Linked DNA regions of Homo sapiens: region 1 is linked to region 2. Evidence: fine-mapped expression QTL. A gene starts in region 2. The other region holds a variant in brackets. All regions are shown on one strand. Distances are between the middles of the regions.

Region 1 (4,387 bases), 21 kb before region 2:
CTTTCTAGGCTATGTGAAATTGACCTTACTTCTCCAAACCTAAGTTCATGCAACTGTAAATTGAAGCGGAGTGCAGGGAGGGAGCAGAGACCCCAGCAAGAATGCTCTGCACTCCTTCCTGTGCAAGCGCTGTGGCAGGGGTCATAAGTCCCTTGCCTCTTTCTTTCCCTCTATACATCCTGGTCCAGCCTAGTGGGGAGGGTACTGAAGACCTTTCTGTGGCAGCTCACATTCCGGGCACTCTCAGCAATGGAAGTGCCTCTGGTGCCTCAAACCTGTCCCTCACCCCAACCATCCCCAAAGCAATCTCGGCAGTCATTTCACAGCACAACATACAATCATATGTGTGCTGTGTTTCCCCCACATGCATGCACGAACTATACCTGCTGCTTGCCAAATGCACAGGCCAAGGGTGGAGAAGGCACCTGGGGTGCCCTTGAGCAGACCCTCCAGACCAGGGCCTCCACTAAGTGCTTGCTGTGGATCATCTTGCTAACTCTTTGCTACATCTGTAGGAAGGCTTGCCACTATCTGTTTCATGGATACAAAGACAGAAGGGAACATCCTGTTCAGAGAAGAGGACTCCACATCCCTGAGCTCAGCAGTGGTCGGGCCCACATCAGAGCTCATAGCTGCTCGTGCTGTGTTACACTGCCCTGTCTCAGGCCCCGAGGAGGAGACAGACAGGGAAACATCATTAACATGGAAGGTACCAGGAAAGGGTCATATAATGGAATACCACACAGCAGTGAAAAAGAACATGGCCACATGTAACATGTAACAACATGGGCGGCTCTCCCAGATGTGATGTTAAGTGAGGGAAATACAGCATAAAGAAAGAACATACTATGGCATGCTATATTTATATTCCATGGATATGAACTTCAAAAACATGCGGAACCAACCTACAGGGAGAGAAGTCAAAATAGTAGTTTCCCTTGGGACAGGGATTACTGATTGGGAAGAGGCACACAAGAGCCTTCTGGAGTGCTGAAAATGGTCTATATCTCGACCTAGGTGGTGGTTACAGAGGCTGATACATATGTAAGTATTCATGGAGCTGTACACTTAAGATTAGTGCACTTTAATGTATGGAAATTATGCCTCAATAGAAAAAGTATTTTTAAAAACCAAAAGTGCCAAGAGCTTCCCCCAGATCTTTGCATAACTGGCCTCTTGTCATTCAGGCCATCCCCTAAATGTCACCTCTTCAAAGAGGCCTTCCCTGGCCCCACCCCGCACCTAATTGAATTTAGCAACACTCCCCGCGTCTGTGCCTCAGTTGCTCTCTATTCTATTAACTGGTTTTCTTTTCTTTTTAGTATGTACCAATGTGCTGGAGCTGGCTTTCACTGGCTCTTCCCAACTCAGTATTCAATGACTTCACACTGCCAGCTTGAGATGAGCCATGATGGGAATGTCAGCACCACAGAAGTCAGCAGGTGCCGCAGATGCCCTCCTTTAAGCAGATCACTCAGCATTTTCCAGTACACCCTGTACACAACACTATTTCAGATCATCTTATGTATTTGTCAGCTTACCGATCTGCTGTATGTCTCCTCTACATGAAGTTTCATGAGGGCAGGGTCTATGGCTTGTCATTTTTGCCACTGTATCCCTGGTTCCTAGAACAATGCTTGTTGTATAGTAGGTATCCAATACATGCTGCTTGAATGAATAAAAGTCTGAGGGAAACACTGGAAACACAAGAGAGGAAACTGTTACCTTTGTACCTGAATACGGAATATTTGAGCTGAGGCTTCAACCATAAAAAAGAGTTTGCTAAGGAGCCAAGGGAGAAAGGACTTCCCAGGCAGAGGGAATAAAATGGAGGCATGAAAGAGCATGGGAGGTCTGGGGGAAAGCCAGCCGCCAGAGTGGCTGTATTGTAGGGTGTGTGGGGTAGGAGAGGCCTTGGGAGTGGCGCAGAAAGGTAGGCTGGGGCCACATTGTGAAGGGCCTTAGCTCCTTGAATGAAAGGCTGGATTTTCCCCTGTAGGCGATAGGGAGCCATTGAAATGTTTTAATTAAAGAAATAATCCGATCAGGTCTTTGCTGGCAAGGTACCTCTGATGGCAGCCTGGAGAGTGGATTGAAGGAGGACGGCTGGAGGTCCAGTCACCTCTCCACAGTATGCCTAGGATAGAAAGCTGGTCTTTTGAAACCAG[T/C]GGTTCTTCTCACTGTTTTTCCTGCCTGTTTCTATTCCCTCAGTCCTCAGTGAAGATGGAAAACAGCTGGCTCTTCCCTCAAAGCTCAGTGGCCCTCTAGGTCCCAGGCCTTAGTTTCCATTGGCCACATTTCTCTGTCTGGCCTAGCTCTGTGGGGGCAGCCCCTGTGGCCTTGCCAAGATGCCCAAAGGGTGAGTGCCCAGTGTGGGCACAGGAACTATCTGTGCCTTCCTAGTGTTTTGACTTAGCCAGCCCATTCCCTGTTCTGTACCTCATCCTGCTGAGTCCCAAGGCAGCAGCAGCCACTGCTATAGTTGCCGCTAGAAGAGGAAGGTTAAGGGGCCTTTGTTGTCTGTGCTGTTGCTATGCAGGAATAGCCACAGGCAGCTCTGAGGTTGGGTTGTGGTCTAGAGTGGGGTTCATGCTTGGCAGCTGAGGCAGGCCACCCCAGCCCAGGCTCCCGCTCCAGGCAGGGAGTTGTAAATTAGAACCTCCAGCCTTCTAATTTAAGGGACCAAAATAAGCCCAGGAACATTCCTGCTGGGGCCCCAGCAGCCCAGCCTTCAGGCAGCAGCTAGGCTCTGTCCTCAAGCCCTGAGTTGCAGAGGTTGGGGAGCTGGGCAGCCAAGGATGGCTAAAGCCTGGGTGACAGGACGTACAGGAGGTATGGGAGGGACTGGGTCGAGGCATTTGTCTGTGGTTCTATAATCAGTCCACTTTAGTTCAGTCTGAGTCCCTATCAAATGTTTAACATCAGGCACTGGACTAGCTTAGCCCTGGGATGACAGTGGTGAGTAATGCTAGGATTTACCCATCTGGGAGAAACCTTAAAGACCATTTGAGCCAAACTTCTCATGTTATAGATAAAAAAAACGAGGCCCAGAAAGGAAAAGACACTGACCCCAAGTCACACAGAAAGTCAGGGGGCAGAGCCAGGACTAGAATCAAGGGCTGTAGTGCAGAACTAACTCCACCCCAAGCAGACTTTGGGGAGCATCGGATAGAGCTTCAGATGGCCTGTTGGGTGTGTCCTACAGGAACCTGGAATTCAGTCAACATGCAGGAACTGTGGGAGGCCTCCCAAAGGTGAGGCCTTGGAACTTGGCCTGGGGACAGGGCAACCTAGGCATAGAGAACAGGCCACATGAAGTCACAGAGGTGGGGAATCTCACAAGCCAGAACCAGGAACGTGATGTGGTCTAAGAGTTGCATGGGTGCATGGATGTCTCTCCCTAGCTCATGTTCCAGTGGACACGTTCCCCAAGAGTACCTGCTGCCTCTCTTTCTCAAGAGGAAAGGAAGCTGAATTGTTGATGAGCATCCTTATCATCACAGCTAACATTTTTTGAGGGCTTACTATGTGTCAGGCTCTGTGCAAAGTGTTGTCTCATTTGATCCTCATAACAACCTTATGAGGTGGGGCTATTATTAACCGCCTTTTAAAGATGAGAATACTGAAGCACATAGAGGTCAAGTAGTTGGTTAAGTTGACACAGGGGATTTGTACAGAGGAAGTCTGATTCTAAGGTCTGTGCACTTAACCATCACACTATAATAGTGTTAATGATAACTGTAATAATAAGCTAGTGTCTGCTGAATATTTACTATGGGCCAACCACTGTTCAAAGGATTTCATAGGGAGTAGCTTGTTTGATCTTCCCAATGACTTTATGGGGTAGGTATTATTACTATTATTGTCATCTCTAATTTACAGATGAGAAAACTGAGGCAGAGAGAAGTAAAGAGCTAGTATTGCTTCTGCAAGACCTTGCCAAGTAGACAAGGGAGAAAGGATTTCCAAGGCAAAGGGAACAAAATGGAAGCATGAAAACAGCATGGCAGTGTCTGGGAGAGCCCAGCAGTCAGACTGTACTGTAGGGTGGGTAGGATGGGGAGAGACATTGGATGGTCCTGGAGATTGCCCCCCTGCCCACTGAAGGAGTGCTCTGCAATGGCCCTGACGAGAGGGAAAGAGAGGGTTCCCCTGGTTGCTCAGGATTTGAGAGCTGGGTTGGGAAGCCTGAAACATCCTAAGAACCCTCCCTGCCTCAATGGGCTAGGTGAGGCCAGGGCAGGCGTCAGTCGAGGGAACAAAAAGTACAGGACTCAAGCCACATCCCCCAAGGAAAGCAGGGACAGAGGGTGTCTCTGTGGGGTCTCTTTCCTCATCATCAGGAGCTTGGCACCCCTGGGAATTGGATAGTTCTCAGAGACCCAGG
Region 2 (4,387 bases):
TATATGCTAGTGGGGCCAGGCTGACATTAACTACTGATTGAATGAGTGCTGAGAGAACACCCATTCTTTGTGGGCTTCTTGAAGCCCATGAAGAAAGCACAAATTCTCCCAAACTCACTCCTCCCTCTTGACACACAGTCATCTCTTACTCCTCTCCATCCTCCACCCCCTCAAACTTCAGGATTCTAGGTCCTGCATTGCTCTTGAATCCATTGTCTTCTTTCCGTTTCATCACCAATGTTGGAATTCAGGCCTCATCATCTCTTGCCTACAAGAGTTCCTTGCTGGTCTCCCCATCTCCAACTTTGCCATCTCTGATCCATTCTTGACACCCCCAGAGTGAAGGTTCTAAAATGCCAATGTGGTCACCCCCCACCCCCAGAGACTGGCTCCCTAGGGCCCACTCCACAGGGCACACTGTGATCTGTCTTCTCCCTGTTCCCATCTCATCTGTGGCTCTTTGCCTTCCTCCTCTTACGCCCCAGTCACACATTGCTGCCTGCCTGCCAGGAGCACAGCAGGCTTCAGCTCTTTCTTTGTCCATTCGGTTCTCTCTGGCTAGAATGCCCTCTTCCTCTTTTTTTTTGCTGCCATCAAGCAGAGAGTGGACATTTGTTGGTTTGTGGCTTCCCAGCCTTCATTCCTCCCCTTTCCTTAGGCTCCAGTTTAGTGAATTGTCTCTGCCTGATTGTGGGTAATGTTGGTGAAACAATAAATCCATGCATGCCTCCTTCCATAGAAGCCAAAGGGAAGTTGCCTTCCCCCCCTCAGCCCAGTATAGCCAGGAGGCGAGCATGGGACTAAGCTTGGTGACTGGACAGTCTCATTGGACTTTGAATCTGGAATAAGCAATATAAGAATAGAGGAAACAGACTTCATTCATGTTATTGGCAACATCCTGATCAAACCATTCCTGCTTCCTATTCCTTCCCAACCCCTCCCCAAGAAGTGCCTTTGCTTATGTCGATTTCCATACCTGGTTCTCTAGCTTTTCCCTTGATTCTGTAAGCTCCCTATAGCTTACCCCTCCAACCCCATAAATTCCCTTCTCTCCTAAGTTAATCAGAGATGCTTTCTGTTGCTTGCAACCAACAATTTCTGATAGGAAACCCAGCTCAAATGTTCCTTCATCTGGTTCTGCACAAACATACTTCCCTGTACATTCCCATAGCACCCTCTACAAAGTGCAGATCACATATTGTTTTTTTTTTTTTTCTGTTCCTTCCATTAGGGTAAAAACTCATATTGGTCCCATCCTTGTGAGCTCTGGGCTCACTAGCTCATGCGTGGTCCAAAGCCAAACATTTAAGGGAACAAACATTTAAAGACTAAATTAATGGACTAGTAGCTCTACCTGCTTCCCCTCTAGGCGCTTCAGTGACTTACACAGACTCTGTCATGCCACAAAAATAGTAAAAATGCACCTGCCTCTGTCGTGAGTCTGGCTAGGAATAACGTGGGATGATTTCTGTTTGGGACACTCCTTCTGTCTGTTTCATGGAAGATGGCGTGAGGGAGGGCACGAGGGGGAAGAGAAAAGGACAGAAAGGGGGCAGGGAGGTAGCTGTTGGAGCAGCTCAGGTGGAAGATGGTGGTGAGTGGGATTAACATGGTGGCAATGGGAACAGAGTAAAGGGGCTGACTGGTGAGATTGTGAACAGAGCATTAGAATTGAATAGGCTGCTCAATTGTTTCTGGTAATTCTGAAAGCAAAAACTGGCCATTTGAGATGGCTTCCATCAGAAGGAGGTGGTGAGGGAGTTCGAGTGTGCCTGTGCATGGTGGAGCAGGGGTGGGGGGATTGGTAGGGGAGGGTGTCACACCGTCTCCAGCATCCCCCTCCTGCCAGCAGCCATGACCGTGCAGGCTGTCTTGCCTGTTTTCTAAAGAGCTTCCCCAGGCAGCAGGGGAGAGAGGAGAAGGGGGGCTGGCCACCCACGCCACTCAGCAGAGGTGAGCCAGGAGCAACGAGTCCTCAAATTCGCCCTCCCCCAAGCCACTACAGGCTGCCAGGTGCCTTGTTTTTGATGAAAGCTTTTAAAAACCCAAGTGCATGGATGGTCATGCATTCATTTTTGTTCATTTAACTAATACTCACTGAGCCTGGAGCCACGCAATGGTGAGCAAAGCCTGCCATGGACCCTGCTCTCAAGAAGCTCCCGAGCTGGCGAGCTGGCGGGGGAGAAGATGCGTAATCAGGCAATTAGGAACCAGTGTGAGCGGGAGGTAAGCATTGGTTGCTATGGGAACACGAGGAGCGGCCACAGCTGCTGCTCCTCTCTGAAGAGTGGTGGCAAGCAAAAAAGGAGGCACAAAACAGGCAGACCTGCTTGCCAGGCCCAGCTCTGCACACCCCAGCCAACTGGTCCAGGACAAAGATCTTCTGGAAGGAAAAAACCCATCAGCTCTCTGCCACACCATCTCTGCACCTAAGAAATAAGTAGGGAGAGCATGATCCAAGGACCCAATGAGATGCTGTATGTCTGTGCCTGGCCCCCAGTAGGTCTACAGCACATGGCAGCTTCTAGGGGTTTTGTTTTCAAGAAATATTTGTTGGTTAAAAGTTTCCTGGGTTATTGGACACCAGGGGTAAAGCTGTGAATGAGATAAACAAGGGTCCTGCTATCAGGGAGCTGATAGTAATTGAGGAGGAGAGACAGATACAAACATACTTATATGGTACAAGCAACTACTACTATGATCATTATCATGATGCTATGAGTGTGTTTCAGACTGGGAGCTGGCCTAGGCTAGGGGCCCAGGAAGACTTCCTGGAAGAGGGGCCATTTCAGCTAAGATCAAAAGGAAGAGAATTACCAAAGAGGTGGGGATCCTGCGTTCCAAGTATAGTGAACAGTGTATGTGAAGGTGCCAAAGCAAGAGGGAGTCTGATACATCCCAGACAAGGAAAGGAAGCCAGGGGAAACTGGAGAGGGAGAGGGGAGGCTGGAAAGATGGGCAGGGCATTAATCCACTCAAGCCTCTAGGCCGTGGTGAGGAGTTCACGTTGGATCCTAGGATGACCCCAATGCACACCACCCCCACCTCACAATGTTACTGTGACTTCCACTACTGATCAGCACATTAAAACAACTGTCAGTGCCTGAGGCACAGCCATGCTCAAGGGGCTTGACTCAGAGAAGGTTTAGAGAAGATTCTGGAATTTGAGAGCTGAGAGAGCTCTTGGAGAACATTTAGGTCCAAATTCTCACTGTGCAGATGGAAACACTGAGACCCAGAGAGGAAAAAAAAGACCTGCTCAGGGTTGCACAGCAAGCAGGGGTATCAGGCCTGTAACTAGAGCTCCGTTTAATCAGCCACACAGTGCCCCTTGCCTCTGTGGAGATCTAAAGGCAAGCTTTTTCTTACAGGTGCAATTTCCTCTGCCTCTCAGGACAACCAGGAGAGTGTTTCCAGCCCTTTGTTACCTTCTTGCACTTCCCCTAGTGTTCCTCTTTTCAAAAAGACCCCATTTCTATTAACCACAGATTCTCATTTGCTTATCCTCCACCTTTCTGTCATGATGGAGCAGCCAGAGGCAGGGCTTGGACCCCAGGCAGGGCCTAACAGAGCTCTCGTACCAGCTATTGATGTGTCTTCCTGGCTTACCCTAGCTCCTGCCCTTGCTATCCCCTGAATCATGTTCTGTGGGCAGAGCCATCTCCACTGACATGGTCACAGCACTTGCCTGCCCAGGCAGGCCTCACCACACACACACTGGTGGAGTTGACACGGTCTCAGCCATCGTCTTATACACCCTCCCATGCCCCATTGCCCTGATGGAAACAGTGAAGCAGGGGCAGCCCAGAGTTCTTGCCTGTGAATGATCTGTGTCTGGTCTTCTGACTGCCTACTCTACTCTCAGCACTGTCTGCTGGCTCCCTTCTCTCTCTGTTGAGGAATAAAGGGAGCGGGGAGACCCTATGGGAGGAGGGAGGCCAGCACTGCCTGAGCGGAACCTGCAGGGGTTGGGGTGAGAGGAACCTGCTTCTCTGCCCCTCTAGCACAGCTCTTACCCAGCTAGCCCTCCCTACAGAGTGGGCCCAGGGTCCAGGAAGGTGCTCTAGGCCTCCACCAGGGAACTCTCTACCTGGTAGGGCCTCCCTTTCAGGGAGGAACTGAGGCCACTACATTCCTCTTGCTTTAGTCCTAGAAGGAGCTGCCTTTGGAATCAACAGTCCTGAGTCCAAATCCCAGCTCTGCCACCTCTGGCTGAGTAGCCTTGGACAAATCTTTGAACATCCCTGGGCCTCAGCTTCCCTATCTGACCATAAAAATTGCTATCTCATTGGCTTGCTGTGGAGATTAAATAGGGGAGCTAAGTGCTAACTCCCTACCTGGTATATAACAATAGGTGTTTGACAAATGGTAGTCGCCTCCCCACACT

Which allele goes with the higher level. Alleles are on the strand shown, and positions count from the first base shown. SD is a standard deviation of normalised expression in the study named.
As copies of T replace C in region 1, the expression in prefrontal cortex of the gene that starts at base 2,187 in region 2 goes down (moderate effect, 0.60 SD a copy in GTEx).

The links. PIP is the estimated chance that this variant, and not a neighbour inherited with it, causes the effect.
Region 1: its variant is the best candidate, but not a certain one, in a credible set for the expression of LINC00269 in prefrontal cortex (GTEx, PIP 0.76).

The regions. Positions count from the first base shown.
Region 1 is chrX:69,198,787-69,203,173 of GRCh38, reverse strand. It overlaps LINC00269 (long intergenic non-protein coding RNA 269), which reads right to left. Exons shown (of 5, transcript NR_103715.1): 2 at 1,542-1,697. Among named protein-coding and RNA genes, the nearest start is that of LINC00269, 21 kb to the right of the region's middle. The variant T/C (reference allele first, on the strand shown) is at 2,169.
Region 2 is chrX:69,177,357-69,181,743 of GRCh38, reverse strand. LINC00269 (long intergenic non-protein coding RNA 269) reads right to left here and starts at 2,187. Exons shown (of 5, transcript NR_103715.1): 1 at 2,099-2,187.